Regions from separate parts of the Homo sapiens genome. Here region 2 is linked to region 1. Evidence: fine-mapped expression QTL. Tissue or cell type: whole blood. Region 1 holds a variant in brackets; the other region holds the start of a gene. Each region is shown on its reference strand, or each on the opposite one. Region 1 overlaps JAZF1-AS1 (JAZF1 antisense RNA 1). Region 2 holds the start of CBX7 (chromobox 7).

What was found. PIP is the estimated chance that this variant, and not a neighbour inherited with it, causes the effect. A credible set is the group of variants that fine-mapping cannot tell apart.
Region 2: it holds the start of CBX7, and the variant in region 1 is the best candidate, but not a certain one, in a credible set for the expression of CBX7 in whole blood (TOPMed, PIP 0.75).

What each region holds. Positions count from the first base shown.
Region 1 is chr7:28,206,508-28,223,006 of GRCh38, forward strand. It overlaps JAZF1-AS1 (JAZF1 antisense RNA 1), which reads left to right. Exons shown (of 4, transcript NR_034097.1): 3 at 10,736-10,842. Among named protein-coding and RNA genes, the nearest start is that of JAZF1, 34 kb to the left of the region's middle. RefSeq lists an enhancer at 1,344-1,423. The variant G/A (reference allele first, on the strand shown) is at 10,114.
Region 2 is chr22:39,148,837-39,165,335 of GRCh38, forward strand. CBX7 (chromobox 7) reads right to left here and starts at 3,844. Exons shown (of 6, transcript NM_175709.5): 1 at 3,540-3,844; 2 at 953-996. The coding sequence starts at 3,608. It also overlaps the pseudogene FUNDC2P4. RefSeq lists enhancers at 1-386, 1-7, 48-342, 3,422-4,003 and silencers at 3,461-3,510, 3,581-4,150.

The sequences.
Region 1 (16,499 bases):
CATATTGCCCATTCAGGATGCTTGACACCTCTCTCCCCCTACGCCTACAAGTTAACCTCATGATCCCCTTTATCTCAGTTTCTAACTGGTGGTTTTTGTTTTGTCGACTAATTCTACCTTTAGGTACTTGAAACTCCTACCCCAAAAGTTATGTGGGATGGGGGAAAGATGCTGTAGGTGTGGGCTGGTTCACTCCAACATTTTGTCCAACCTCTGCCTTTGCCCTCGCGTGCCATTGCCCCACCCCTCTCTGCTTGCCATTCTTACGTCCTCTCTCTTTTTCTGTGTTTACTTCCTTCTCATATCTCAAACCTTCCACCTGAGTTCACTTACATTCTGACTGCTGTACCTTTAGAATTTCTTTGAATAAGGGACATCTAGTATTAAGTTGTGTTTTTCCTTTACAAATGTCTTTATTGCCTTCATTACTGAAAGTTATTGTCACTGAGAAATATATACAACTCTGCATTGGTAGCTATTATCTTTCAGAATAATGAAAATATCATTTCTGTTAAATGTATTTTAGACCTTATCACTTTACAGTCCAGGCATCTTAAGCTGTCTTCCATTTTTTCCCATCTTTTTTTTCGCCTCTTAGTGTATTCTGGATACATTTTTTTTTTCAGAGAGCGTCTCTGTTGCCCATTCTAGAGTGCATTGGCATGATCACGGCTCACTGCAACCTCGATCTCCCTGGCTTCAGTAATCCTCCCACTTCAGCCTCCCAAATAGCTGGACTATAGGCATGTGCCACCACACTAAGCTAATTTTTTTTTTTTTTAGTAGAGACTAGGTCTTGCTATGTTGCCTAGGCTGGTCTTGAACCCCTGAGCTCAAGTGATTCTCCCGCCTTGGCTTCCCAAAATGCTGTGATTACACTGAACCCATGGATACATTTTTCTGTATCTAATGCTACTGTTAAGCCCATCTATTGAGTTTTTAATTTGAGTTATTGTTTTCATTCCTAGACATTCTAGACATTTCTAAACATTTAGTTCTTTTTCAACTATGCTAGATCACCTTTTATATTTTCTATATCTGCAGAAATTTTTTCAAGCTTGTGTCTAATAATTCCAATACTTCAATTATTTGTGGGTCTGTTTCTACTTTCTATTGTTCCTGTTCTTGCTCATGATGCCTCATTTCCTGTGGTTGGTTATTTTTGGCTGTGTGCTTCTCATCACCTTAGAAAAGTTGTATGTGGGGGTTCTTTGAGGTCAAGGATAAAGGTGCCTCCTCTGTAGAGAATTTGTTTTTGTAGTTGCCGCATAAAAACTGTACTATTTAGCCTGGGATCACTTTAAATTCATGGCTTGAGGTTCTTGTGGACCACCCAGATGATGTAAATTTTAGGTAAAAATTTTTGTTAGAGCTAATTTGTAGTTAAAAAAAAAAAAAAATCTCAGGATGGGGATTTCCCTCTTGTTCAGCTCAGCATAAAGGCAACTTCCTTTGCATTCCCCTGGAGATGGTGTTGGTGTTGGTTATATTTCTGGTCTTGGGGTACCTTGAGTGCTTTGATTTATTTCCCTTCACCCCAACAAGTAGAATTTTGAAGTTGCTGGGACTGACAAATGATCTCAGGATAAAGATGGCTGCTGTGATCACTTATCTCTCTGGGTTCTCACTTTTGTTCAGATATCTTTTGTTATTTGTTGGATCTCCCTTGTCTTAAGGGCTAATTTAAAAATATTTTAGCCAGCATTTTAAATTGCTTTCAGTGGGAGGGTTGGTATGAATAACCTAGCTTGCCATTACCAAAAATAGCAGTACAATTTTTTAACAGCTGCATAATTTTCTATTGTATGCATATACCAGTGTTATTTAACCACTCTCCTATGATGGATATTTATGTTGTTTTTATGTTTTGTATTATAAATAATAGTGCAGCGAAAATTCTTCATCCACCATGTATGCATCACATATATATTACACACACACACACACACAGACACACACACACGCACACACAGGCACACACACATCTTTCTGTATGGTAAGTGTTGAGAAGTAGATTTCAGGATCAGATTTTATTATACATTTTTCTTTTGTTTTTTACTTTTGAGAGCTATTAACAAGCTACACTCCAACATACTAGCAATGTAGGAGAGCTTCACCACAGCCTCGAATTTGGGGGAAGGCAGATAGTTCTTAAAGCTATGTTCTCAAATGCATGCCATCTTGGCTTGTCTAGAAATTGTGGCCACGAGATTGTGATCAAGGTGGGGACCTTCCTGGGTAGGACCACAGCTGCTTTCAAAACCTACCATAAGATGAGTATTAATTGAGGGCTCAATCATATCCTCAAGCCCCATAGTATCTGGACTTAAAAAAAATATAGTAAGCCCATTAAGGTTATTGACCAAGTTGGAATTTAATACCAATGCTGGTCTTTCAAAGATACAGTGCAGAGAGACCTGAATGGCCTCTGAATTAGTGGGCTAGGGAACTACTTCTCCAAGAATGAAGTTGTCCACATAGCTCTGAAAGTTTTCTAGAAATTTTAGTCATGGAATAAGCTTTGTCTATTTTTAAAATGTGTGGATATTATTATTGATAAAGGCTCTAATCCAGGCAAAAGGAATAATTCTTAATCAATACCTACTGTAGGAGCTAAATTATATCACCCCCAGATTCTTTTTCTTTCTTTCTTTTTTTTTTTCTTTTGAGACAGAATTTTGCTCTTGTCCTCCAGGCTGGAATGCAGTGGCGAGATCTCAGCTCACTGCAACTTCCACCTCCCAGGTTCAAGCAATTCTCCTGTCTCAGCCTCCTGAGTAGCTGGAATTATAGGCACCCACCACCACACCTGGCTAATTTTTATATTTTTAGTAGAGACGGGGTTTCGCCATGTTGGCCAGGCTGGTCTTGATCTCCTGACCTCAGGTGATCTGCCTGCCTCAGGCTACCAAAGTGTTGGGTTTACAGGCATGAGCCTAATCCCCAATATCTCAGAAAGTGACTGTGTTCAGAGATAGTCTTTAAAGAGGTAATTCAGGTTAAATGAGGTTTCTGGAATGGGGCCTAATCCAATGTGACTGCTGTCCTTCTAAGAGAAGATTAGGACATAGATACACACAGAGGGAAGACCATGTGAAGACACAGGGAGAAGACAGCCGTCTGCAAACCAAGGGGAGAGGCTCCACAATAAATCGACCCTACTGCTAACATGATCTTGGACTTCCAGCCTCCAGATAAATTTCTGTTGTTTAACCCCCCCAGTCTGGGGTATTTGTTATGGCACCCCTGGCAAACAAAGAAAGTTAAGCATGGCTGAGGAATTGTTCATCCTATCTGATGTTAAACTGCCTAAAACTCTGAGTTAAAGAAAATATGGTGAGTGGAAACTTATTTCATAACTTACTTGCCTGCCTCTTCTCTACTTATTTTAATACAGTTCTTAAGGAGTCCATAGAGTGATTTATAGGTTGGTGCAAAAAGAATTACAGTTTTTGCCATTGAAAGCAAAACCAAAAACCACAATTACTTTTGCACCAACCGAATAATTTTGAGATGAATGAAAAAAATTTTTTTGAGACTTTCAGAACTGTGATATTTCATTATCCTTGCATTTTATGAAAGTAGTATGATATTAAATGACATGATGGACACATGACAACTAGAACTTTTTGAGTATGATTTTAAGATAGACAGGGCAGGACTTAATACTTCTCTGGGCACTGTGCTCCCTCATCATGGAAAGCAGAGTCCAGGTTGACCCTTGGTCCCTAGCACAGGTACACATTCAATACAAACCCCACACTGTACGACTGGCCATTTGAGTGGGATGGATTACACATGCTTCTTTTGAGGGAGGTGATCTGGGACCTGAATCCTTTCTCTAAAGGATTACTTAGAGACCAGCTCCTACACCTGTTAAGCTAAGATTTTGAACTTCTCACTGTGTCTCTTTCAGTAGATGAGGGTGGAATTTGGCCCAGAAGGCAGTGTCAGGAAGTGCATGCTGGGATGGTCCACAGAATACCTGTTTACCAGTGAGTTGAAGGGCTGCCCCTTTGGGCACAATTTGCAAACTGTTGACATATGTTTATGAATATAGAAAAATAAAATCTTTGCTTAATAAACTTATCTTTTATTTTACAGACTGCTTTTAAGAAAATATTTTGCCTTTTTTTGAAGACAATTTTTAAAAATCTTCATTTCATATTCTTCTGGCCAAAGGAATTTACTTTTGTTAAGCATGGGGAAAAAGCTCAGTGCTTGGGGGTCTTTCTCTTTCTATATTTTGAATTTAATGGCTTTCTGAGTCATATTCTGTTGGCATGTACTATAGATATCCATTCAAATTACTGAAGACCTGGGTGAAAATAATTTCTTGGTACACATGCCTAATTGTCATACCCATATTTCCCTAGAGCATATCACTGTTCTGAAACCATTAAGTGATTGTGCAAACTTAAATATAAAAGACAAACTTGAATAATAACAATCTTAAAAAAATTAAGATATTTATATTAGTTTTCATGCTGCTAATAAAGATATACTCAAGACTGGGTAATTTATAAAGAAAAGAGGTTTAACTGACTCACAGTTCTGCAGAGCTGGGGAGGCTTCAGGAAACTTACAACCATGGCAGAAGGGGAGGCAAACACATCCTTCTTCACATGGCAGCAGCAAAGAGAAGTGCAGAGTGAAGGCGGGGGAAAGCCCCTTATAAAACCATCACATCTCATGAGAACTCACTATCATGAGAATAGCATGGGGGAAATGCCCTCATGATTCAATTACCTCCCACCAGGTCCTGCCCATGACATGTGGAATTATAGGAACCACAATTCAAGATAAGATTTGTGTGGGGACACAGCCAAACCATATTATTATCAAACTTCAATAACTTTACTAAAAATAAAGAAAACACACCATAGCTAATTCCAAATAATTTGAGATTACTCTCAAACTTCCAATATTTTTTCAGATTATAACATAAACCTGAATTGGAAGTCTATAAAATTATTACAAATTGCAAAAACAATATGTTTTATTTTGAAATAGTTTCAAAATCACAGAAAAGTTGCAGGAACAGTTCAAAGAACTCCTATATGTACATCACTCAGAGATCCCATTCATTTCACTAATTGTCTGAATAATGTCCTTAGGGAAATGATCTAATACAGTGTCATGTGTGGCCTTTGGTTGTCATGCCTCTTCAGTCTCTTTCAATCCAGAACAATTCCATAGTCCTTCCTTGGCTTTCATGACTGTAAAATTTTAAAATCATGGGCAAGTTATTTTAGTAGAATGTTCCTCAATTTAGGGGACTTCAATGTTTCCTCATTATTAGAGCCAGGTTATGCATGCATTTTTGAGGGAATATTACAAAAGCAATCCCAAGTTCTTACATCCTGTCAGTTGGCACATGATTTCAATCTGGTGATGTTACATTTGATGTTATACTTGAGTAAGGTGGTTTCTGCCAGGTTACTTTACTAGAAAGTTATTCTTTTTCCTTTATAATGAATGTCTTTTGTGGAAACATACTTTGAGACTATGTAAATATTTCATTTGTCTTCTAACTCTTGCCCACAAATGTTAGCATTCATTGATGTTTCTTGCCTGAATCAGTTATTACTATGATCATTGCCAAATGGTGATTTTCTATTATTTCTTCTACATTTAATAGCTAGCATCTGCTAAAAAGAGGAACTTTCTCTTTTTTCCATTTATTTATTAGTTTGTTTAAATATGATTGGACTCAATGATACTTTATTCAGTGTGTTAATGGTTCAACTGGCTTCAAACTGGCTTCTATGTCCTTTTGACATGCCCCCATCATTTTTGAGTACGTCATTACTTCCTGACATTAAGTTATTGTTTAGACTGGACGCAGTGGCTCACGCCGGTAATCCTAGCACTTTGGGAAGCCCAGGTGGGCAGATTGTTTGAGCTCGGGAGTTTGAGACCAGCCTGAGCAACGTGGCGAGACCCCATCTCCACACACACACACAAAAAATATAAAAATTAACTGGATGTGGTGGTGCCCACCTGTAGTCCCAGCTACTCGGGAGGCTGAGGTGGGAGGATGGCTTGAGCCTGGGAGACAAAGGTTGCAGTGAGCTGAGATTGCACCACTGCACTCCAGCCTGGGCAACAGAGAGCCAGACCCTGTCTCAATAATAATAATAATAATAATAATATGTTATTTTTCAGACTCAAAAAAAGCAGAAGCAAATTGTGCTTTTGCTGCACCAGCCCTGAAATCTGTCTTTCTTTTTTTCTAAGATCTCTTCTGTTAGTGGAAAATGGTTTCTAGAAATCTGTAAGCTATGTAGGCTTACTGCTATTGGCCTATTGCTGCTTCCAGGATCTCTCAGTGGACAGAACAAGGACAGAACATTGAAACATCTAGATTCATTTTTATATCTATCTAATTATATATATATATATAAGTTTATAGCAGTTCCTCCACTTCAATTCAAACACAATCGTTTCACCTTTTCATATTTAAAATTCTCTTATCAGGCAGCAAAGGAACCCGGCTGCATAATCCTCAATATACAGTTATCCCTTCATATCCATGGGGAGATTGGTTTTAGGCCGTCCCAAGGATACCACAATCTGCAGATGCTAAAGTCCCTGATCTAAAATGGCATAGTATTTGCATATAACCTAATCATATCCTCCTGAATACTTAAAAAATTATTTTGGAGACACGGTCTCTCTCTGTTGCTCAGGCTGGATTGCAGTGGTGCAAGCATGCCTCACTGCCATCTCAACCTCTGGAACTCAAGCAGTCCTCCCACTTCAGCCTGCTGAGTAGCTAGGACTACAGGCATGTGCCACCATACACAGTTAATTGTCTAAATTTTTTATAGAGATGGCATCTCACTATGTTGCCCAGGCTGGTCTCAAACTCCTGGCCTCAAGCAATCCTCCCCTCTCAGCCTCCCAAAGTGCTGGGATTACAGACATGAGCCATCATGACCAGCCTGTCTGAATACTTTAAATCATCTCAAGATTACTCATAATACTAAATACAATGTAAATGCTATGTAAATACTTGTTTTACTATATTATTTGGGGAATAATGACAAGGAAAAAAGTCTGCACATGTTCAGTGCAGATGTTGTTTAAAAAATATTTTTGATGTACAGTTGGTTGAATTCACAGATGTGGAATCTATAGCTAGGGAGGGCCGACTGTATTTATTTGTTCAGTCCCCCTGTATGCAACAAATCCTTCAGCCTGCTGGGCCACCACCCACTCAACTACTTTCTAACTTTCCTTCTTCTTGGGCATCTCCAGTGATTTTTAAAATGAGTGATTAAGTAGAAAGGAAAGAAAAAAGTAGTGAGAAAAGGAGGAGGAAAAGAAGAGAGAATAAAAATAAAGAAGGAAGGATGGATATTAATTGTTAATATTGATCATGGAAAAGCATGTGAGTAGAAAATTCATGAATTAGGGAAAGAAAATACAAACTTAGGGATCTGCCTGGTTGAGAAGGTAGTTACTAGGTGAGACTAGGTTGTGCTGCAGTAATAAACTGAATTTTAGGTGATAAAGACCCTAAAATCTTAGTGGTTTAAAACAATGCATGTCATGAGTGGCTCTGCAAGGTAAGTGCTCTCTGTGGGGTGCTCAGCGCTCCAGTGTGCTTTGACCTCATCATCCCTCTGTCTTAAGATGTTACCATTGCCATCCAAGCCTTCAGGGATCACTGAGGTGGGGGAAGAGAACATGTGACCAGCTCTTACATACTTCCTCATGGAAGAGACACACATCAATTCTGCTCACTATTTATTGGCTAAAGAGTCAGGTGACCACTCATAATTTTAAAGGGGCAAGGAAGAATAGTCTTCCCACTGCCCATAGTAGCAGAACAGAAAATGCTGGTAAGCACAGGGATAGTTACCACAAAAGCTGTTTTCTCCCAACTGTTAGGAAAAGCTAGCAATATTGAGACTATTCAGAGTCATCTTTTTTTTTTTGTAAAAAAATTTTATCATGTCCCCTTTGCCATAAATATTCTTGAAACCCAAGATAATTAAGATAAAGGTCACATTATAGATACCAAGAAAATCATCTGAAAATTATTTACTTTGACTTTACATGGAACTGAAATCTGAATTTAGAGATGGTTCACATCGTTTCCACTCTGAAACACTTTTTAGTAAAGATTGAAGTCACTGATTCTAGAATAGGGCTGCACATTAGAATCACTTGTGGAGATTTATAAAAATTGCTGCCTGAATGAACCTTGTTCTTGGAGATTCAGATGGAATTGGCCTGGGTGGGGTCTAGACAGCAGTAGTTTTTAAAACTCTCCAGGTGAATCTAATGCAAAAGTCAGGCTTGGAATCTCTGCTTCTAGCCCTGACACCATTGTACTCCCACTGGTCCTTCAGCCTGCATGTCACTTCCTCAAGGAAACCTCACCAACTCCTAAGTCTAGTGATGTGCTCCTATGTCTCTCTATGCTTTCTGTCTTATTCTCTTTGGAGATGGAGTCTCGCTCTGTAGCCCATGCTGGAGTGCAGGAGCACGATCTCAGCTTACTGCAACCTTCGCCTCCCAGGTTCAAGCAATTCTCCTGCCTCAGCCTCCCAAGTAGCTGGGACTACAGGCGTATGACACCATGCCCTGCTAATTTTTTTGTATTTTAGTAGAGACAGGGTTTTACCACGTTGCCCAGGCTGGTCTCCTGAGCTCAGGCAATCCACCTGGCTTGACCTCCCAAAGTGCTAGGATTACAGGTGTGAGCCACCGCATCCGGACTTCTGTTTTATTCTTTATCACACTGTGCTCTGTTTGCCTGGATGCTTTGCTATATTTAGCTGTAAGCTCTATAATGGTAGGGACATGTGGTCTTCATTTTTTGAATGCACAGTCCCTGACATAGATGCCTACCTAACACATAGTAAATGCTCAATTAATGTGCATTGAATAATTAATACATAATATTGGATTTAGAACTTTCTTTATATTGCTTCCTGTTCCAGTGTAAAGCTTGGAAGGACAGACATAGGGTTAGGAAATTAGTTTATTTGGATCCTTTATGAATAACTGATAGATATGGACCTCTTTTAAAATGATCCCGGACTATGTACACAATGAACATTTGTAAGATGGAGTAAAAGCAGAAAGTAGGCTAGGTGCAGTGGCTCATGCCTGTAATCCCAGCATTTTGGGAGGCTGAGGAAGGCAGATGGCTTGAACTTAGGAGTTCCAGACCAGCCTGAGAAACATGGCAAAACCCTGTCTCTACAAAAAATATTTACAAAAATTAGCCAGCGTGGTGGCACACTTATGGTCCCAGCTACTCAGGGGACTGAGACGAGAAGATCACTTGAGCCCAGGAGGTTGAGGCTGCAGTGAACTGAGATTGTGCCAACGCACTCCAGCCTGGGTGACAGAGTGAGATCCTGTCTCAAAAACAACAAAACCAAAAACAAACAAACAAAACCCACAAAAATGGCAAAATAAACAACAACAAGAAGCAAGTAAACATTTGATGCTTTTCAAAAATGATTGTTTGAACTCATTTACAGGTTAAATACACTGGGAAATTTTCTTAAGATAATCAGAAATGGCTAATCTATTTGCCTAAGCATGTTGTAGCTGTATGCCTTTAGATAATAATTATAGTGCCTGCAAGGTAAAGGATAAACTTCTCTGTTATTCAAAGACCTTTGCAATCTCTTCCCAGCCTGCCTTTCTAACTTCTCCCAGCTGAGTGAAGGTGGAAAGAGAGTACATTTTGAATTCAGAAGCCTCAGAGTCAAATTGCTGTTCCACAGTATTCTATCTGAGAATCTTAGGCCTGTTTCTTAATTTCTCTGGGCCCCAATTTCTCCATCTGTAAAACAGGGAAAAAGGAGCTACCTCTCACAATTGTTTTGAAGGTTAAGATATTGCATCTGATGGTGCTTTGTAAAGTGCAAAGCCCACTGCAAACAATTCTTAATATTAGTTGCCAAACAGAGTTACTGATAGGTGTCACACTTTAGATGAGTACCTGAAGTTTCTCAACCTGGCGCCTTCCCCGGCTGAGAGTACTTTTTCTTGTCATTCTATCTATCCAGTTTTTATGCTCAGTAGTTATTAGTCTCCTTCCCTCCCTTCTTGAATTGTTATTTCTCAATACGTCTGGGCAAT[G/A]GAACTCAAGCCGTGATGCAGTGATGGGAGGAAGATGCAGCAATGGATTGTCTTTTCTGTGGCACTGCAAGTGGAGAACAGGGTAGGAAAGAAACAGTAATGCCTGCAAGCATCTGCTCACTAATCTCAAAAGTGCTATTTACTTTTAATTATTTATTATAATACTTCAAAGCATATTTTGTAAAATTAATAAAGCCTGAGTAATTTGAAACCTCTCCATTTAGCTTGCCAATACATCTTTGCTGAGAAATGCAGTTGAGTGGAATTCTGAGAGAACGATTTGATCTATGGGCCAGGGACAGAAGGATTACTGAGGATTTTTATATGTTCTTAGAATGCCTTTCTATTTCAGGAGAAAAATAAAACAAACATAAAGCAAACTCCACTTCATAGAAGCAAGCCAAGTTATACCAGAAAATCTCTTATTACTTAGCGAAAAAGAGAATTTCTACTCTAAATCACACTCCTTATGTTTACATATATTAAATATAGAATGAAAAGAATTTAGAAAGCAAAAACAATGTTTATAAGTGAACTTTTAAAATCAGACGCAGACATGTAAATGAAAATGTTACCATTGTATGAGGACCTATGTTAATTTTTGCATAACGTTTGTTTCCAGGGGTTCCTGTTGAGATTAAAGTAAATGCATTTACCAGCATACATGTCATGGAAGACTGACTCTGCACCATGCTCTGTGACAAAAGGCTTCAAGATTAAACCGGTTTGGTAAATCCTCTTCTTGGAGATGCACAATGCATGTCTGCCTATTAAATCTCTGAGTGCTCCAGCAGTAGAGATCCTGTTGAAATTTAACTTTGTTGTTCTTAAATTTCCTTGACTGTGGAGCCTTTTAAAACAATTATTTCACCTATTAACAGCTGAAAACATGCTGTCCTTTGGAGTACTTCTTGGGAAGCTCTGAATGACGTCAATTAAATACATTCACTTGCCCCGCTCATCCACAGTGTCCTTTCTGGAATGGCCTTGCAATAACAGTTAGGTAAAATTTTACATAAAGCATAATGTGCTTTAAAACTAGTCATAAAAGGATTTTTCTTGGTAAGAGCTTTATTGGGATATAATTCATATAACATACAATTCACCCATTCAAAGTGTACAATTGCATGGTTTTTCGTATCTTCACAGAGTTGTGCAAGCATCCCCATGGTAAATCTTAGAACATTCTCATCGCCTCAAAAAAGAAAATTCATTCGTTTTAGCTATGATCCCCTATTCCTCTATCCCTCCACTCCACCCCTAAGGAGCAACTAATCCATCTTCTGTCTTTATAGATTTGCCTATTCTAGATACTTTATGTAAATGGAATCATACAGTATGTGGCCCTTTGTGCCTGGTTTCTTTCACTCAGCGTAGTGTTTTCAAGGCTTTCATGTTATAGCATCTATTAGTACTTTACTCCTTTAAAGTTTTAAAGATGGACAGAAGCCCAGGAAGGTAAGAAAGTAAAGAAGGGCAGGGTGGTGAGTTGGTGCCCTGGGGATCCTTGAGCTTGACTAGGATAGGAAATGCCCTGCCTGGGAGAGAAATGCCATATTCTTTCCTTTCTTCCATAACTTCTTATGGTTTGGGCTCCAAATCTTTTTACACACACAGAGTTGATCTCCTTTGCAAAATCTGCTTCCTGAAAATTGCTGGTGGATCAACACTGATGCTTTTCTTGGATATGAGGGCCACAAGGCTTGCACCTGTTTCTCAAAATGAGTATCTGAAGTTTGAGACGCTTGTATTTGTTTCCTGCTTATTTTACAGACTTGAAGAGGGAATTTCCAAGGGGATTGCATGGCGCTTCAGTTAAACCTTTGAAACCCCATCTCTACTGAAAATACAAAAAATTAGCCAGGCATGGTGGCGCATGCCTGTAGTCCCAGCTACTCGGGAGGCTGAGGCAGGAGAATGGCGTGAACCCGGCAGGCAGAGCTTGCAGTGAGCCGAGATTGCACCACTGCACTCCAGCCTGGACGACAGAGCGAGACTCTGTGTCAAAAAAAAAAAAAAAAGAAAAGAAAAAGGAAAAAATGCTGCTTCTCTCCTGAGGCAGCTACTAGAATCATTGTAGGGATATTGCATTTTGTAAAAAAGCTCATAAAAGTTTTCAGCAGTTAGCTCATAAGAGCTCTGGAGGTGAGAAGAGTTCTTTTTCCTAACAGAGTAGGTGAGTCAGGGTCTGGGTACAGAATTTATCACCCCGCCAATGCTCTTCCCAAGAGGAGAAAAAAATGAAAAAAAAAAAAAAAAAAAGAATGTGAATGTTCCCAAGCGCTCGGGATTAAGGTTGATTTAATCTGGTTGCTTCTATTTTGCCATGTTGTGACTTTCACGTGCATCCCATTGCCTGATGCTTATAAATGATGGTTGCGCATAATGTCCCATCTTTTGGGTGCAGAGTTCAAGGACCCTGAAACAGCTGTAGGGGGTGTTTTGGACCCTGGTCTAGCAATGGCCTCAGAAGATTCTGATAGAGGTTTGATTGGTCACTTTACAAGGAACACTGGTCTATACTTAGTCTCTGTTACATGCAGGGAAATATTGATTCTGAGGCATTGAAGTCACAGAACTTAAGATGCTTTTATCCACTAATTCGGCCAACGTTCCTTGAATGCTGCTGTTTCTACACAATAGGGATATAGCATTAAACAAGACAGTCCCTGCCCTCGTGTAGTTTATAATCTGGCTCAGATTCCTCTAAATCAGAATTGTCTAATGTTTCTTGTGGATGCTGTGAAATGATCAAGATGTCTCAAATTAACTCGTTTCTGACCTGAGCTCCCTAGACAGACCCCGCATGAGCAGGAAGAAGCATTCTGTGCTATGTGTCAGCCACTCCTTTGGATGTGTCACATGCCTTTCTTCTTTCATCTTCCTGACAAGCCTACAGGTAGGGTCTTGTTACAACTCTCTGGTGGAAGAAGTTGAGGCTCAGCAAGGTTTATTAAGAGACAGAACCAAGATTGACTCTAAGACTGTCTACCTATTCTCTTTCAATGAATCAATGCTACTCCAACAAACTGAAACACTTTGATATTGACCCCAAATTCAAGGGATGCCCAAAGGAGCACTAACAGGTGACAACAAAAAGTGTGTTCAATTCAACAGTAATAACAGAAGGCATTTTTGTGCCTTGAATCCTGTAGCGTGGTGGAAACAGCATAGGCTTTGATAAATCAGTGAGGATCACATTAGTCTCCAATCAATTAAAATTCCAAAAATAGAGGCTTAAGATTTAAAAGTATTTTCCTGTAAAAGGTGGCATGTAATTCCTTGGTCTTCAGGGTCAAAGGCTCTTCCAGCTTTCTGTTTCCTTATCCTCATTGTCCAATATGGCTGCTAGAGCTCCAGATATCACATCCTAGTTCCAGGCAGCAGGAGAAGGGAAAGGCTGAAAAGGGGCATTGCCCCTTCCCTTTGGAAGACTTCTCAAATGTTTTACATAATACTTTAACTTCCATCTCCTTGGTTAGAACTTAGTCACATGGCCAACCTAGCTACAAGGAAGAATGGAAAGTGTGATCTTTTAGCTGGAGAGCAGTGTACCCAAATGTGAATTGAGGTTCTGTTACTAAGAAGAGGAGTCTTGTTACCAGGAGGTAACTAACAGTCTTTGTTGTAATATATTCTATGCTTTTTAATTATATGGTAAAATCTTAGCTACAGCTTATTAACTGAATTGATTGCATTTTTTGCATTCACTCGACAAACACTAATTGATGCCTACTGTAGGTATTGTGTTAAGTGCTAGGGATGCAAAGACCAATAAGACACAATAGGAACTCGATATTATCAAAATAAATATTAAGGGTGATGACTAAGGGATGCAGGGTTTCTTTCAGAATTCTAAAATTGATTGTGGTGATGTATATACAACTCTATAAATATACTACAAATCATTGAATTGTACACTTACATGGTGAATTGGATGATATGTATTCTATCTCAGTAAAACTGTTTTAAAAAGACAATGTGTGCCAGAGTAGAAAGGAGTCTGTATGCCAATGCTTAGGAGATTCGTGTCAGTGCAGAGAATGGATTAGAGCAGTGGTTCTCAAAGTGTGTTCCTGGACCAGCAGCATCCGCCTCACCTGGGAACTTGTTAGAAATGCAGCTCCTCAGGCCTTACTCTTCATCTGCTCAGTCAGGAACACTGGGGGTGCGAGCAACAATCTGTGATTGAACAAGCCTACCAGGGGATTCTAATGCACGCTCAAATTTGAGTTTCTAGATTAGAAAATATGAAAGGACTGAAGGAGAGCATTTAGGATGTTACTTCAGTGAACACCAGTGAAATGACAGTGAACACTGGTGACACTGAACACTGGTGGCTTCAAGTAAGGATAAAGAGACAGATGTGGAATTATTAGCTATAGCTGGAAACACTTCTAAAAGGGTCTTAATATACTTAACTATTAAAGTGATGAATCAGGAGGTAATGGCCAAAACTGATGAAAAAGAACTAGAAGTCTATGTAAGCATATAATGAAGGTAACCTATAAAGGAACTAGAGTGATAGTCATTAACATTTTGGAGGAGGGTAGAAAAAGAATAATGAAAATGAATGACGTTTTTGCCTTTCTGGCAATCTCTTGAATATTCTTGAATCTTTTGAACAATAATCTCTTAAATTGACAAGTAGATTTTTGAAAAAATATATAAACTTATTATGTAAGGAAGAACTAAACCCAGAAATGGTTAGGTTTCCTCTGATGAGGTGGCCAGGGTGGAGCTTTTAATTATCTGCCCTCCTGCACGTTTAAAAAAGTGCAAAAATAGAATGTTTATTTAAAAAACAACCACTTAACTCTCTAGGTAGATTATACTATTAGTCTCACTAATCTGATCCCCCTTAAGACATCAGCTACAGTTTATGAGTAAATTTGAAAAACCAAGAGTTTTAAGAGGTAACGCCAGAGAATTAAATTTAATCTGAGAAAAAAGTCATCTAACAGTAACACAAATAATCTTGGGTGTTTCTAAAGCCCTATAGCTGGTATCTTTTCGGTGTGAGTTAGTACCTGAAGACTCATGATGTTCTAGTTATTTTTCTCTCTAATTTGAGTTGCTCTTGTCCTGTCTCTTAGGTGTATAACATCTCTCTCAAGAGATTTGTTTCACTGGGTCCACCCAAGTCAATAGCATCCACAGGTTCCTTCAGGTGCTAAATTCTTTGTGCTATTATACTTCATGGAGATGAGCATCCCAGGAAGCCTGGGCCGCATTTCACTCAGGCCTTCAGCCTCATCATTTCTCCAAAACCTGTCCCTTCAAGGCCCAAATAATCTTTGTGCTTCCAGTCTCAAAGCTCATTTCTTGGTGTACATCTTATTCAACCTACCAACCCCAGCTGACCATTTATTCATTGACTATATCTTCACTTGGCTTCCAGGACCCTACTACCCTGGTTTTCAGGTTTTCTTGATGGCTTCTTTTTAATCTTCTGTGTTGCTTGCATCTCTGAACCTTGCTGAGTCTTAGGGATCAGTCTGAAGATCTCCTTTCCTCTCTAGCTTCACTCACCTACTCATTCCACAAATGATCTCATGTAAGTCTCATGACTTTAAATACTGTCTATATGCTGGTAACAACCAACATTTTATCTCCAGCCCTTACCTCTGAACTTACACCTCCAGCTGTCTATGTCATGTCTCCACTTGGGTGTTTAAGTACCCATTTCGAATGTGGCATGTTCCAAAACACTCCCTCTGCAAACTCTTATTCTTTTGCAAGCTTTCCCAGCTCAATATGTGGAAATGTCCTTTTTCCAGCTGCCTAGGTCAACATGGACTCATTCTTTGTCCCTCTCTTCCTCTCATTCCTTAGGTGTGATCCATCAGTCATACTGCAGCTTTCCCATCAGGTATATTCAGAAGATGACCACTTCTCAACATCTCCACTATCACAACCCTGAGTCAAGCAGCCATCATTTCAGCCTAGAGTATTGCAATAAATGGTCTCCCTACATCCACCTTAGTACCTTCTCAACTAATTCTCCACATAGCAGCCAGAGTGAGTGTCTTAAAATATGCACCAGATCTTGCCACTTCCCTGCTTAAATCACCCATGACTTCCATCTTACTCAGAGAGAAAGCTAAAGTCCTTACATATTCCCCGGAGCTGTGGCCTTATCTAGCAAACAATACCATGGTTTTCTTTCCCTAATCAGTGTTGGTTTCACTCTGTTCTTGATAAATCCTTTTCCTGCCGCTAGCTATCTTGAACATATAGGCCACTGAACACAGAAAATTCAGTGAAAGGAAGTGGCTGAATCAGTGTATTTTAATCTGCTAAAAACAAACAAAAGGTTAAAAGAAGAGTAGAATTTATGATACCCTATTAATGAGGAATGTGTATACGTACAGCAAGTAATAATC
Region 2 (16,499 bases), not on the chromosome of region 1:
CTCTCTGCTGTCTCTCCCCACCATCACCCCAGAATGCCCACAGGACCCCATACCAGGTCAGCCCCCACCAGCACAGCAAAAAGTCCCTGCCCGACAGCAGCAGCTCTGGGCAGAGGGGGTTTCCAGGACTCAGTCTCCGGGAGGCGGGGCAGGGGGTGGGGCACCCACAGACCAATGGGGAGGCCCCACGACTAGCTCATTCCCTCCCAACAACTCCCTGCTGGAGGGCATTGGTGGGTTCCTGATGGGGCCTCAGCAGGAGAGGTGGAGAAGCTGGGAGGTCTCAGATACAGCTCCCTGCCTCCCAACTCCGAGATGGGAGGCTGGGAAGGCACAGAGGAGACACCTGAAAAGGAGAAGGCCTAGTTCAAGTCCCAACTCTGCCTCCACTTGCTGTGTGACCTAAGGCAAGCTGCTTACCCTCTCTGAGCCTGTTTCCTCACCTTGAGAGCGCCTGATCACACCTACCTTACAAAGCTGTATGGGAACCTGCTCTATAGACTGGAAAGTGCCGTCTAGAGGTGAGGGGGATTCAGGCTCTGCCCCTGGCCACACAGCACTGAGGACTCATGCAGCACTGTGCTTAAAGCAGCTGGGGTCCCCTCCTCCTGTCCAGCAGCCATCTCCAGTAGCCCGGATGCTGGGCCTTCACCTCCCAGTTGCCAAGAAAAGCCACAGGGAGGGGAGGAGGGAGAGCAGAAGCTCCAACTAGCAGAGGAGCTCAACACTCAGGAGGGCAGGGTGAGAAGAGAAGCTGGAGACCCACCTTGACCCTCCTGTGGTCCAGGGGGAAACTGAGGCCCAGAGAAGATGATGATTAAATCAAGGTCAGCTGTCCAGTTACAAGAGTAGCTGGAGCTAAAAGCTAGGCAGGGGAGGGGGCAAAAGGCAGGTGGAGGAATGCATGGGTCGGTAGGCAGACAGACAGACACACACACATGAAGGAGCTTACTTTGGGGGCCATCCTTTCCACTTCACCAGATACTCGACTTTACCCTGAGAAGAGAGAGAAGCAGACACAGTGAGTCTCGTGGTTGCCCCTACAGCCACTCGGAAGGACAGTTAAGGCCCAAAGGAGCCCAGCTCCAAATCCCATCTGCAGACAGGTGTCTCCCCAACACACAAACACAATCCGGGGACTGTCCACCAGATCCTCGCCAACCCATATAACCGCGACTGCTGCATGCCCGCCCCATACTGCCCTCCCTAGGACAGCACAGGAGTGCGTCTGGCTCCAGCCACCTCTGAGGCTCCTGAGGCCCAAGCCCAGGGCTCATGTCACACACTGGGAGCTGAGACTGCATGGAGGTGTGCATGCGTGGCCAAAGACCCACAGTGTCTAGAGCCCCAGTGCACAGGTGGGAACGCTTACTTTCTTTTTTAGATTGGAAGAGTCTCCAAATACGAAAACATTCCTCTCTGGGGTAGTCCCCACGCTCCTCCCCCATCTGCTGAGTCCCCTTTCAGTCTGTGAGTGGCTGCCTCTGGCTCAGAGGTAATGGGCCAGTGACTTGAGGACTCTCAACTCAAAAGACCCTGGCAGGACCCCATGGAAGACTGGCAAAGTCTCCACCTTCAGAAGGGGTGGTCAGCCCTGTGGTTGTTAGAAAGTAGAGCCAGGCCCCTCCCTTCCTCACAGGCTTTAAAAGTTTACAGTTACGGTGGCTCAAGCCTGTCATCCCAACACTTTGGAAGGCTGAGGCTGGAAGATCGCTTGAGCCCAGGAAGGAGTTTGAGACAAGCCTGGGCAACACGGTGAGACCCCTGTCTCTGAAAAAAGGAAATTAGTTGGGCATGGTGGCACTTGTCTGTGGTCCCAGCTACACAGGAGGCTGAGGCAGGAGGATCGTTTGAGCCGGGGAGGTTGAGGCTGCAGTGAGCCATGTTCATGCCCCTGCACTGCAGCCTGGGTGACAGAGTGAGATCTTGGTGCCAAGAAAAAAAAAAGTTTACAGTCCAACCCCATTGTGAGTGAAGCCCCTGCACGCCAGAACTTTAAGACCAAAATATGATACCTCCTCACAGAGGCTTTCCCTGGTGACCCTCTCCCATGCTGTCTCCACTGGCACCTTGCAGTTCTATTTCTGCAGAGCACACAGCTCCATCTGAAGGCATCTGTCTGTATCTCCTCATTCACTGTGTGCCGCCTCTGCAGAATGCCAGCTCCCTGAGGGAAGGGGTGGATCCCTGGGGCTTAGACTGGTGCCTGGTACCTGACCAACCCTCAATAAATATTTTGAGTGACTGGCCGAAGGAATGATGATCTCGCCCTCTTGTGCTACCCTGCGGGCTCCATCGTAGAGGGAGTTAGTGCTGTGCCTGCTTCAGGCTACACAGCACGAAAAGCACTGAGCTTTGTGGAATAAATCAATTCTCTTTTAAGTGGAGAAAACCCTAGGAAAAAGGAGAAGGAGGAGGAACAGCTGCCTCAATCAGAAGAGTAAAACCCCAAGCACAGCTGGAGGAAGAAAAGATGCTCCTGACCACCTTGACCTTCACCCTTGGCCCGAGATGCCAGGACTGAGTTTTCTCTATGGAGAAAGAAGATGGGCTGCCAATCAGCCCAGTTGAGCTCCTGCTCTACCTCCCTATCTAACTTGCTCGGTGACCTTGAGCAGGTCACTTCCTCTGCCTGGGCCTCAGTTTTTGTCTCTGTTAAATGGGAGGAGGTGACCCCCTAAGGCCCCTCCCAGTCGGCCTGGAGCCTCCCAAAGGGCTGCAGGGAGGAGGAGACAAAGGAAGGACAGTAGTGCGTACCAGGAAAGGAACTTCTCCCCAAGGATTTCCCCAGCCTTAGGCGAGCCCCCTCGCCAAACAAGTGCACGGGAGGTGTAGACGCCAGGCCCGGACAAAGTCTAGCCCCAAAGTGTGGGGTTCTGAAACCAGCAGAACAGACACCTCCTTAAATTGCAGGGTGTATGTTTTGAAGAAGGCAGATGGGGTAGGAGACTAGGGGATGCCCCAGCGCAGGGGGCGGGCTTCAGAGCCCTGGCCTGGGCTAGGAGTTGAGGTGGGGGTGGGGGCGGGGAATAGGGATGTGCTCGGGTGGCGTAGAGGGGGCAGGATCGGAAAAGGCCAAAGTCCAGCAGGAAAAACTTCAGAGGCCGGAGGAGACTTTTCCAAAGCTCCACTTACAACTTGAAAGGATTTGGTGCCAAGCGTCCAGAGTCCCGAGTTCAAAACCCAGCTCTGACCATAACGCGCTAGGCAAGTCCTTTCAACTTGGGCCTCAGTCTCCCCATATTTACAATAAAAGGGGAGCGAGGTGGGATGGCGCTGAGGATCCCTACGTCCGATCCTAATCTCCAGCTCAGGCAGGCTCGGCCGCCACTAGCATCCTGGAGCGACAACTTTTGTTCTACTCGCCCTACACGGTGGCAGGGAAACTGAGGCACGGGCTGGGGAGACGGGCCCAGCAGCGCAGGGCTGCCGGGGCCCCCGCGCCCCGCTTTCCCCTTCAGCCCCAGCGTGGAGGGAGCGGTGCTGGGGACGGGAGGGACCCCACTGGGGTCCTGGGAGCCGCCCCCGGGCAGCCTCACCTTCCGCACGCGCTTCTTCCGGATGCTCTCCACGGCGAACACCTGCTCGCCGATGGCTGACAGCTCCATGCGGGGCGGCGGGCGAGCGGGCCCGGGGCCGGGCCGGGCCGGGGGCGGAGCTGCGGGGCCGCGGCTGCGGCGCGCGATGCTGGGGCTGGCGGGGTCCCCGTCACCCTCGTCCGGGCGCGCACGCGCACGCGCACGCGCGCACACCCCCTCGCGCTCCCTCACGCCGCCGACGTTCCATTTTTGAACCTGCGCAACGTTTTCCTCGGCGCCAGCGAGCGAGCGCGCGCAAGGAGGGGGCGGGGCGGGAGCGCGCGGAACGGCCGCGGGCTCGGCTCGCGCCCTGAGGGTCAGCTCCGCCCCCGAGCCCCGCCCCCATCGGAACCCCGCCCCCGGGGCCCGCCCCCGCGGGTTGCGATTGGGCCGCGGGCCGCGAGCCGCGAGCGCTGCCGTGGGACTTATTTGGCTCGGTCACCGGCTGGGGCGGGGCGGAGGCTCGCGCGCCCCGTCTTGCTGTGACGCCGGGGCGGGACGTGATCCTTAATACCCAGGCGGGCGCCTCATAGCCTCCCGGTGACTGCCAGGGGCCGAAGTGGCAGGGCCCAGTGGAGCCGACGACAAAGTCAAGGCTCAGAGCGGGGAGGCCATTTGCTCACCTCCCGCAGCGGAGGAGACTGGGCCCGAGGCGCAGCCCCTCGAGTTGCAGGAGAGCCGGGACCCAAAAGGCTTCCCACCGTGTCCGGACGTCGCAGGGCCGAGGTCTCCCTAATCCGGCCTTCTCCGCGGCGCAGTTTGGCCAGTGTCTCCACGTCCGTCCACCCACCCCTCCATCCGCCCTTCCATTTGTCCATCCACCCGACCCTCGGTGGTCGGTGCCCAGACGCACGGGTCAGACGCGGGCGCTGCCTCGAGGGCTCCCGGGCCGGGCCCTCGTTCGCGGCAGGAGCGGCCGCGGTGGAGCTGAGGTCCCCCGGGGACGGATTTTGCCGCCGCGCTGCCCCAGCCTTCCCCAAACCCGCGTGTACTGGGCGCTAGGTGCTTAGTGGGGGCTCAACCATTTGTGGCACGAGACGAACTCTTGATTCCCCACCCCCCTTCCTTTTTCGCTAACGCGCCTCCATTCCTCACTGGGAGCCCGGCGTCGTCCCTGCTCCTTCCTGTACTGACCCCAACTTCTGTCGCTCCGGCATCCCCTCGGGGACTCGGGTCTGCCTGCCCTCACCGCACCCACCTCCCAGGTTCGCCCCGTCTTTTCTCTGGACCACAGCAGAGACCTCGCGGAGCTGCCCTCCCTCCGATCTCAGCCACACAGTGCCAGAGTGTGCTTCTAAAATGCAGATCTGACGGGGTCACCCTGTGCTTAAAAATTTTCCTCCCTATTTCCCTCACAATAAAATCCAACACCTCTTTCTGGCACATAGAAAAAGAGAATAATAGATTCACACCTGACTTTTCATCAAGAGCAACAAAGCCAGAGAGAAAATAACCATCATCTTAGAATTATATATTCAGTGAAAATGTATTTCAAGAATTATGTACCCAGTATGAGGCACATGTATCCAGAACGTAGGTGAAATCATAGCACTTACAAATACAAAAACTTAAGAGTTTGCCACTGGTAGACCCTCCGGAGGGAGATTCCAAAGCTGGAACTTCAGGCAGGAAAAAGATGATCCCAGACGGAGGTCTGATGCAACTGGGAATAAAGAAAAATGAAGAACAGCGATAGTGTGAAACAATAACAATGACTTCTGGATAAAAACAGATTTAAAATACACAACAGTGATGGCATTTACTTGGGTGAATGGAGTTAAAGTGTTCTAAGATCCTTATATTCTTCAGGAGGAAGGTGAAGATAGATACCAAATACACTTTGACGAATTTAAGAATCCAGATTGTCATTACTGGGATAAACACTGTAGGACTGGAAATACTGTGTATAGTTATCCAAATTATTGGAGGAGGAAAAAGAATGATTAAACCAACCCAAACAACTGTAAAGCAGGCAAGAATGGAGAGAAAAATAAATACAAGACGGGGCAGGGAGGGGACAAATAGACGATAGCTATAAATTCGAATATTTTGTGATTCAATAAATGCAACTAAATATTGCAGTTAAAATACAAAGATTATCAGAATGCATAAATAGCTAGATGCAGTTTACAAGAGAAACCCACAAGAGACACTTCCAAAACATAAAGCTAGTGATGGTCAAAAGTAAACACATGGGGGGAAAATACCACGCAAATGCTAACGAAAAGAAGGCTGGTGCAGTTATTTTAATATCGAGGGAAAAACATCACTAGAGATAAATAAGGTCATTTCATAATGAAAAGTGTCCAATTCACCAGAAAAATAGAACAATTTCACATTTGTATGCAAATCATCTTAAAATATAAGAAACATGAAGAAGACAGCTAGATGGAGAGATAGACAAATCCACAATTATAGTGGGAGATCTTAACACTCACCCCTCCATAAGTGGTAGGAGAAGAAGAAAAATATTCAATAGTATATAGGAGATTTGAACACAATTAATAAACTTAACTAATGGACTTCATAGCACACTGTTATCTACCATGGTAAAATACTCCCCTTTACAAGACATGGAATACTTACAAAAACAGTTCATTTCAATAAATTTCAAAAGTCAGAAATAACAGAATACATTCTCTGACCACAACACATATAAGCTAGAGATGAATAATAAAAAGTTCACTTCAAAAGCCCCATATGTTTGGAAAGTAAGAAGTATGGGTTTTTTTGTTTTTGTTTTTCATTATATTTATTTATTTATTTTGAGACAGAGTTTTGCTCTTTCACCCAGGCTGAAGTGAAGTGGCACGATCTTGGCTCACTACAACCTCTGCCTCCCAGGTTCCCAAGTAGCTGGGATTATAGGCACCCGCCACCACCCCCAGCTAATTTTTGTCTTTTTAGTAGAGGTGGGGTTTCACCATGTTGGCCAGGTTGGTCTCGAACTCCTGACCTCAGGTGATTCAACCATCTTGGCCTCCCAAAATGCTACAATTACAGGCATGAGCCACGGAAGAGGTACGTTTTTATGTTAACTAGCGGTTCAAAAAAAAGAAATTGTAATGGAAATTATAAAATATTTTTAACTGCTCTTCCGCTGTCGCCGTGGGAATGGAAATCTGTCCCTCGTGCTGGAAGCCAACCAGTGGTGATGACTCTGTGTGCCACTCCGCCTCCTACAGCGCGGATCCTCTGCGTGTGTCCTCGCAAGACAAGCTCGATGAAATGGCCGAGTCCAGTCAAGCAAACTTTGAGGGAAATTTTGAGTCGCTGGACCTTGTGGAATTTGCTAAGAAACAGCCATGGTGGTGTAAGCTGTTCAGGCAGGAATCTGGACCTTCCCCGAAAAGTGAAGGGTGGCAACCCAGCCGTTCATTGGGGGTGTCACTGAATGGTGCACGGGTTTCATATCCCAGAAGGTTGGAAAGTTGGCTGTAACAGTTGTGGGAGGTGTTTTGTTTTTTTCTCCTTCAGCTTGCAAATCATACTGGGTACATCAAAGTTGACTGGCAACGAGTGGAGAAAGATATAAAGAAAGCCAAAGAGCTGCTGAAGATCCCTTAAGAGCAATCAGATACCTACCAAGGTCAGGAGCAAAGCTGAGGAGGTGGTGTCGTTTGTGAAGAATGTTCTAGTGACTGGGGGATTTTTCGGAGGCTTTCTGTTTGGCATGGCATCCTAAGGAAGATGACCTTATTTTCATTGTTCTTGTTTTTTTTCCATCCAGCAGTCTCTACACTCCATCATAGGACATCAAGTCTCTCCTCTTCTCCTGTGCCTTCCTCCCTGCTGTAGCAAATCCGAGTGGCTTCTATAAGCATCTCTTGGTACAAGTTAATGTGGCCCTTGGCCAAGTGCGGTGGCTCATGCCTGTAATCCTAGCAATTTGGGAGGCCGAGGCGGGTGGATTGCCGGAGCTTAGGAGTTTGAGACCAGCCTAGGCAATATGATGAAACCCCATCTCTACTAAAATACAAAAAAAAAAAAAATTAGCCAGACGTGGTGGCAGGCACCTATAATCCCAGCTACTTGGGAGACTGAGGCAGGAGAGTTGCTTGAACCCGGGAGGCGGAGGTTGCAGTGAGCTGAGATCGCGCCACTGCACTCCAGCCTGGGTGACAGAGTGAGACTCCGTCTCCAAAAAAAAAAAAAAAGTTAATGTGGCCCTACCATGAGCTTGATGGTGGCAGAAGAGGCAATAGTTGTTAGGTCTCCTCCCATACACCCCGTATGTGGCCAATCTGTAGGTCAGCAAGAAGGTTCCTTTTCCCCCATGCAAGACACTTACCAGATCACATTGCAAGATGACTCGCCATGGAGGATGAGCAGACCCTGAAAGGTTGTCTCAAACTGTTGATTTGGAAAAGAAATAAGCACATAGATAAACTTATTGTGTGCTGCATGGAAAGGAACTGAATACATTTGCCTTTAAGCATGAAAAAAATATTTTTAACTGAATGACAATAGAAATATTACATAGTAAAAATGTTGGGCTATGGCTAGTGCGCTTCTTAGAGGGAAGTTTATTGCCTTTTGTGCTTATATTAGTAAAGAGAAAAGGCTGAGAGTAATGAACAAGCGCTCGTTTCAAGAAGCTAGAAAAAGAGCAGCAGAATAAACCAAAGAAAATGAAAGGAAGGCAAGAGTAAAGGTACAGGAGAAAATAGGCCAGGCACAGTGGCTCACGCCTGTAATCCCAACACTTTCGGAGGCCAAGGCAGACGTATCACCTGAGGTCAGAAGTTTAAGACCAGCCTGGGCAACATGGCAAAATTCCATCTCTACTAAAAATATAAAAATGAGCAGGCTTGGTGGCTCGTGCCTGTACTCCCAGCTAGTCAGGAGGCTGAGGCAGGAGAATTGCTTGAACCCTGGAGGCGGAGGTTGCAGTGAGCCTATATCATGCCACTGCACTCCAGCCTGGGCAACAGAGTGAGACTCCATCTCAAAAAAAAAAAAAAAAAAAAAGAAAGAAAGAAAAAAGAAGAAGAAGAAATGGTAAAGAGAAAATAATGAAATGGGATCAGCAAAACCAAACATTATTTCTGTGAAAAGACTAATGGCATGGACGACTCCTGTTGAAATTGATCAAGAAAAAAGAGAGAAAACACAATTAACTAATATCAGTAATTAAAAGTTACAGAACCTGTAGACATTTTAAAAAGGAAAATAAAAGAGGATATTATGAATAGTCTCATTACAATAGCGTAAAAATTTGAATGAAAGGGGCAAGTTCCTAGGAAAATATGCCTTACCAAAATGGTCGCAAGATGAAGAGAAAACCCGAATGAGTACCATCCCTAGTCATAGTACCAAATTATGAAATACTTTCATAGCCAGTTACTGACCATTTGAAACACTTTCCAGCCTTCACATGGAGCAGGGTCCAGAAGGCTGTCCAGGCAGTAATTCCGTGATTTATGTGACATCAGAAGGTCTGGGGGATCTGGGGCATCCCTGGAAGAGTCATTGCACTTAGGAGGTTGATCGTAGCGGCTACATACCAATTGGTATGAAATTATTTTGGAATTTGAGCAACCTGAAGTCCTATGGCACCAGCTGGACATCAGACCTCCCCATAATGATTAAAGGAAGGAAACCGGTAATGCTTCCACAAAGAAAGCTCAGACCCAGAAGACTTCACCTATAAGCTCTTGAAAGAACTCATTCCAATGCTACCCCCAACTTTTCCACATAATAGAAAAAGAGAGACTGCTTCCCAATTCTTCATATGGCAAGTACAGCACAAGAGAAAATTACAGGCCAATGTCACTTATGAATATAGATACCAAAATCCTAAATAAAACAGCAAATCAAATTGAGCAGTATGTAAAAATGATACTACATAGTGGTAAAATTGGGTCTAATCCAGAAATGCAAGGTTGGTTTAACATTTGAAAACCAGTCAATATAATTTGCCTCATTAAAAAATGAAAGGAGAATTAGCCAGGCATGGTGGCGGGTGCCTATAATCCCAGCTGCTCCGGAGGCTGAGGCAGGAGAATCGCTTGAACCCGGGAGGTGGATGTTGGAGTGAGCCAAGGTCGTGTCGTTGTACTCCAGCCTGGGCAACTAGAGCAAACTCCACTCAAAAAAAAAAAAAAAAAATTAAAGGAGGAAGACATGTGATCATCTCAGTATATGCAGAAATAGTTCAACATCTGTTTGTTTTAAAACTTGTAGCAAACTATCAACACAAGGGAATGTCTTTATCCTGGTAGAGGGCTCTATAAAAAACCTACAGCAAATATCTTAATGAATGTTGAAATGTGGAAAACATCCCCTTGAGATCAGTTACAAGGCAAGATTGGATGAATCCCCATTTCTGCTAAACATCACACTGGATATCCTGAATCTGTTGCCCACTGTGGTGGCCATTGGCCAAATGTGACTGTCAAGCATTTGAAATGTGACTAGTTCGAACTCAGACAGAAGAATAAAATTAGATACAGGCCAGATTTCAAAGATTTAGTACCCAAAACATGTAAAATGCCTCATTAATAAGTTGATATTTATTTAATATGGAAATGATAATATTTTGATACATTAGGTTAAACAAAAAATTCATCTTTTTTTTTTTTTTGAGACGGAGTTTTACTCTTCTTGCCCAGGCTGGAGTGCAATGGCGTGATCTCAGGTCACTGCAACCTCCGCCTCCCAGGTTCAAGCGATTCTCCTGCCTCAGCCTCCTGAGTAGCTGGGATTGCAGGCATGCACCACCATGCCTAGCTAATTTTGTATTTTTAGAAGAGATGGGGTTTTGCCATGTTGGTCAGGCTGGTCTCGAACTGCTGACCTCAGGTGATCCGCTCGCCTTGGCCTCCCAAAGTGTTGGGATTATAGGCGTGAGCCACCGCGCCTGGCCTATAAATTAATTTTTAATGAAGATTTTAGAAAATTTTAAATTACAGTTGATCCTTGAACAACACAGGTATGAACTATGTGGGTCCACTTATTCATGAGTCTTCTTCCACCTCTGGGAGGTGGCAAGACAGCAAGACCCACCCCTCCTTTTCCTCCTCCTCCTCAGCCTACAAAGCATGAAGAGATGAAGACCTTTATGATGATCCACTTCCACTTAATGAAGAGTAAATATATTTTCTCTTCCTTATGATTTTCTTAATAACATTTTCTTTTGTCTGGCTTACTTTATGGTAAGAATACAATATATAATGCATGTAGCATATAAAATATGCGTTCATTGACTGTTTATGTTATAGGTAAGGCTTCCAATCAACAGTAGATTATTAGTAGTTAAGTTTTGGGAGAGTCAAAAGTTATATGAGGCCAGGTGCAGTGGCTCACTCATGTAATGCCAGCACTTTGAGAGGCCAAGGTAGGTGAATCACCTTAGGTCAGGAGCTTAAGACCACCCTGGTCAACATGGTGAAACCCCATCTCTACTGAAAATACAAAAATTAGCCAGGTGTGGTGGTGGGCACTTGTAATCCCAGCTGCTGGAGAGGCTGAGGCAGGAGAATTGCTTGAACTCAGGAGGCAGAGGTTGTAGTGAGCTGAGATGGCACCACTGCACTCCAGCCTGAGTGACACAGAAAGACGGTCTCAAAAAAAAAAAAAAAAAAAAAAAAAAAAAGACAACAAATGAAAGAAAGGTGAAGTGATTTGAAATAAGACCATCAGCCAGTCGTGGTGGCTCATGCCTGTAATCCCAGCACTTTAGGAGGCCTTCAATAGCTTATAGGTGAAGTCTTCTGGGAGGCTGAGGTGGGCGGATCACAAGGTCAGGAGTTTGAGACCAGCCTGGTCAACATAGTGAAATCCCGTCTCTACTAAAAATACAAAAATTAGTCGGGCGTGGTGGCTTGCACCTGTAGTCCGAGCTATTCGGGAGGCTGAGGCAGGGGAATTGCTTGAACCTGGGAGGCGGAGGTTGCAGTGAGCAAAGATCGCACCAATACACTCCAGCCTGAGCTACAGAGTGAGACTCTGTCTCAAAAAAGAAAGAAAGAAAGAAGACCATCATTATTTTCAGATTTTATGTAGAAAATTTTAAAAATCTTCAGAATATTTATTATAATTAATAAGAAAATTTAGCAAATTGTTGGATAAAATATCAACAGACAAAAACCTATTGTGTTTTGTGTTTCCATATGCCAGTAATAATTAGAAAATGAAGTAAAATATTATTTATATTATAATAAAAATATGTAAGATATCTGGGAATAAATCTAATGAAAATATGCAAGGCCCTTATGGAATAAAATCATAAAATTATATTGCAAGACATTAAAGAAGATCTAAATTTATTTTTTTGGCCGGGCACGGTGGCTCACACCTGTGATCCCAGCACTTTGGGAGGCCAAGGCGGGAGGATCACTTGAGGTCAGGATTTCGAGACCAGCCTGGCCAACATGGCAAAACTCCATCTCTGCTAAAAATACAAAATTTAGTCAGGCATGGTGGCATGTAGCTATCTATGATCCCAGCTATTCTAGAAGCTAAGGTAGGAGGATCGCTTGAGCCTGGGAGGTTCAGGCTCCACTGCACTCCAGCCTGGGTGACAGAGCGAGACTGTTTAAAACAAAAAACAAACAAAAAAAAACAACAACAAGACATAAAGCTATAGCAAATAAAACAATGTCCTATTGTTCAAGACTAGACAAATAGAAAAAAAGGAATGACAATGAGAGCTTAGTCAAAGAGAGAAGGAGAGAGAGAGAATAAAATTGCAGTCACTGGGTAAAGGATACACTTTTCAATAAATGGTGATAGTTATTCATACAGGAAATTAGACCATTAGACCTCCTGCCTGGCAAAAATTGACTCCATCTGACTTCAAATCCTAAATGTGAAAGACAAAATTCTGAAACTTTTAGAAGATGATATTTTAAAATATCTTTATCTTTATGATCATGAAGTAGGGAATCGTTTCTTAAACAAGAAACCAGGAACATAATTCATATAGGAAACAATTGATAACTTAGACTCCATTAAAACTATGAGCTTTCTTTATGAAAATACATATAAAGTCAGCCAGCGACTTGAAAAGCTGAGGCAGGAGAACCGCTTGAACCTGTGGGGTGGAGGTTGCAGTGAGCTGAGATCGTGCCACTGCACTCCAGCCTGGGTGACAGAGTGAGACCCTGTCTTAAAAAAACAAGGCCAGGAGCGGTGGCTCATGCCTATAATCTCAGCACTTTGGGAGGCTGAGGTGTGTGGATCACCTGAGTTCAGGAGTTCGAGACCCGCCTGGCCAGACTGGCCAACATGGTGAAACCCCGTTTCTACTAAAAATACAAAAAATTACCGGCCGTGGTGGTGGGTGCCTGTAATCCCAGGTACTCAGAAGAATCGCTTGAACCTGGGAGGCGGAGGTTGCAGTGAGCCGAGATTGCACCACTGTACTCCAGCCTGGGCAACAAGAGTGAAATTCCATTTCCAAACCAACAAACAACAAAACAAAAAGAGCCAGGCGCGGTGGCTCACACCTGTAATCCCAGCACTTTGGGAGGCTGAGGCGGGCAGATCACCTGAGGTCAGGAGTTCAAACCAGCCTGGCCAACATGACAAAACTCCATCTCTACTAAAAACTACAAAAATTAGCCAGGCGTGGTGGCAGGCACCTGTAATTCTAGCTGCACGGGAGGCTGAGGCAGGGTTGAACCCAGGAGGCAGAGGTTGTAGTGAGCTGAGGTGGCACCACTGCACTCCAGTCTGGGCGACAACGTGAGACTCCGTCTCAAAAAAAAAAAGAAAAGAAAAGAAGAAAATATATATAAAGTGAACAGAAAAGAAAAATATTTAAAACACTCATAAATGGACAAAGGAGGTGATGTAAAGAGTTCCTGTGAATCAAGTGGGAAGATGGACAATCAGTTGTAGCAAAATACAGGAGTGCAGAATGTGGCAAAGACTTGGACAGGCAAAGAGAGGAATCACCAGTGGCCAACAGTTGTGAAAAGTTGTTCAAGCTCATGAGTAACGCAAATAAAATCCCACAATGAGATACGACTGATTAACAAAAATGTTAAAGTCCGTTTTAAAAATTATTGCAAGCAGGCTAGGTGTGGTGGCTCACGCCTGTAAACCCAATACTCTGGGAGGCTGAGGTGGGAGGATTGCTTGAGCCCAGGAGTTCGAGATCAGCTTGTGCAATATAGCAAGACCCTTGTCTCTACAAAAAAATCAGAAATTAGCCAGGTGTGGTGGTGCATGCCTGTACTCTGAGCTACTCAGGAGGCTGAGGTGGGAGGATCACTTGAGCCCAGGAGTTCAAGGCTGCAGTGAGATATGATCACGCCACTGCACTCCAGCCTGGGTGACAGCGAGAGACCGTTAAAAAAAAAATCTTGCAAGCACTGGCAAGAATGTGGAACAATTCTTCTTCTTCTTCTTTTTAGACAGTCTCACTCTGTCACCCAGGCTGGAGTGCAGTAGTGTGATCTCGGCTTACTGCAACCTCCACTTCCCGGGTTCAAGTGATTCTCCTGTCTCAGCCTCCCGAGTAGCTGGGATTACAGGCATCTGCCACCACACCTGGTTAATTTTTTTGTATTTTTAGTAGAGATGGGGTTTTGCCATGTGGGCCAGGCTGGTCTCGAGCTCCCGACCTCAGGTGATCCACCTGCCTCGGCCTCCCAAAGTACTAGGATTACAGGCGTGAGCGACCGCACCCGGCCTAATTTTTGTATTTTTAGTAGAGATGGGGTTTTACTATGTTGGTTAGGCTGGTCTCAAATTCCTGACCTCGTGATCCACCCACCTTGGCCTCTCAAAGTGCTGGGATTACAGGCATGAGCCACTGTGCCTGGCCTATGTATGGTAACTTTAACTTTTTTTTTTTTTTTTTTTTTGAGATGGAGTCTTGCTCTTGTTGCCCAGGCTGGAGGGCAGTGGCGTGATCTTGGCTCACTGAAACCTCCGCCTCCTGGGCTCAAGCAGTTCTCCTGCCTCAGCCTCCCAAGTAGCTGGGATTACAGGCACGCACCACCACGCCCAGCTAATTTTTGTATTTGTAGTAGAGGCAGTGTTTCTCCATGTTGGTCAGGCTGGTCTTGAACCCCTGACCTCAGGTGATCTACCCGCCTCGGCCTCCCAAAGTGCTGGGATTACAGGTGTGAGCCATGGCACCTGGCCATGTATAGTAACTTTTAAAGAAAATTCCAAACTGTTTTCTAATGTAGCTGTGCTATTTTGCATTTCCACCAACACTATTTGAGAGTTCCAGTTGCTCCACATCCTCACCAACTCTTGATATTGTCAATCTTCAATTTTAGCTATTTATTGCCCATATACTGACTGAATGTAGAGAATTTGCATTTCTCTAATGGCTAATGATGTTGAGGACCCTTTCAAGTAGTTATTTGCCATTCATATATCCTCTTTGGTGAAATGCGTTTTCAAATATTTTGCCCATTTTAAAAATCAGATCATCTTCTTAGTCTTGAGTTACAAGAATTTTTGGCCAGTCATGGTGGCTCACACCTGTAATCCCAGCACATTGGGAGGCCGAGTCAGGCAGATACTTGAGGTTAGGAGTTTGAGACCAGCCTGACCAACATGGTGAAACCCCGTCTCAACTAAAAATACAAAAATTAGCCGGGCATGGTGGTGTGTGCCTGTAATCCCAGCTACTTGAGAGGCTGAGACATGAGAATCACTTGAACCCAGGAGGCAGAGGTTGTAGTGAGCTAAGATGGCACCACTGCACTCCAGCCTGGGCAAACGGAGCAAGACTCTGTCTCAAAAAAAAAAAAAAAAAAAAAAAAAAAGATTTCTTTATATAAATATTTTCACCAAGACTGGTTTGCCTTTTAATTTTTTTCTTTCTTTTTTCTTTTCCTTTCTTTCTTTTTTTTTGAGCTAGGGCCTCACCCTGTCACCCATGCTGGAGTGCCATGGCATGATCATGGCTGACTGTACCCTTGACCTCCCAGGCTCAAGTAATTCTCCCACCCCAGCCTCCTAAGTAGCTGGGACTATAGATGCACACCACCATGCCCGGCTAATTTTTGCATTTTTTTTGTAGAGATAGGGTTTGGCACTATTGCTCAGGCTGGTCTCGAACTCTTGAACTCAAGCAATCCACCTGCCTTGGCCTCTCACAGTGCTGGGATTATAGGCATGAGCCGCTGCATCTGGCCACCTTTTAATTTTTTAAATGATGTCTTTTGAAGAACAAAAGCTCTCACATTGCAGAATAGGATCCATTTTGGGTTAATTTTATATATGATGTGGGGTGAGGGTCAAGGTTCATTTTTTTCTCCATAAGGTTAATCGATTGTTCCAGCACCTTTTGTTAGAAAGACTGTACTTCTCCTTACTGAATTGCCTTAACACATTTATCAAAAGTCAGTTGCTTTTATGTGCATGGATTAAATTCTGAACTCTCAATTCTGTTCCTTGATCACTTGGGCTCAAGTGATCCTTCTCCCTCAGCCTCCTGCGTAGCTGGGACCACAGGTGTGTGCCACCATGCCTGGCTAATTAAAAAAAAAAAAAATTGTAGCAATGGGGTCTCACTATGTTGCTCAGGCTGGTCTCCAACTACAGGCCTCAAACGATCCTCTCACCTTGGTCGCCTAAAGTGTTGGGATTACAGGCATCAGTCACCATGCCCAGCCCTATATTAAGTCTTAAAATCAGGTAGTCTAAGTCTTGTAACTTTGTTCTTTTTTTTTTTTTTTTTTTTTTTTGGCTTTTCTAGATCCTTTGCCCTTTCATATAAAGGGCAAAGGGCACATTGTCAATTTCTACCAAAAAGAAAAAAGACTACTGATATTTTTATTGGGATTATTTTGCATCTATAGATCAATTTGGAAATAATTTACATCTTAACAATATTGAATTTTCCAACCCATGAAAACATTCTATCTCTTCATTATTTAGGTTCTGTTTAGTTTCTATAAGCAATGTTCTACAGTTTGGGGGTACAACTGCAGTTTCACATCTTCACCA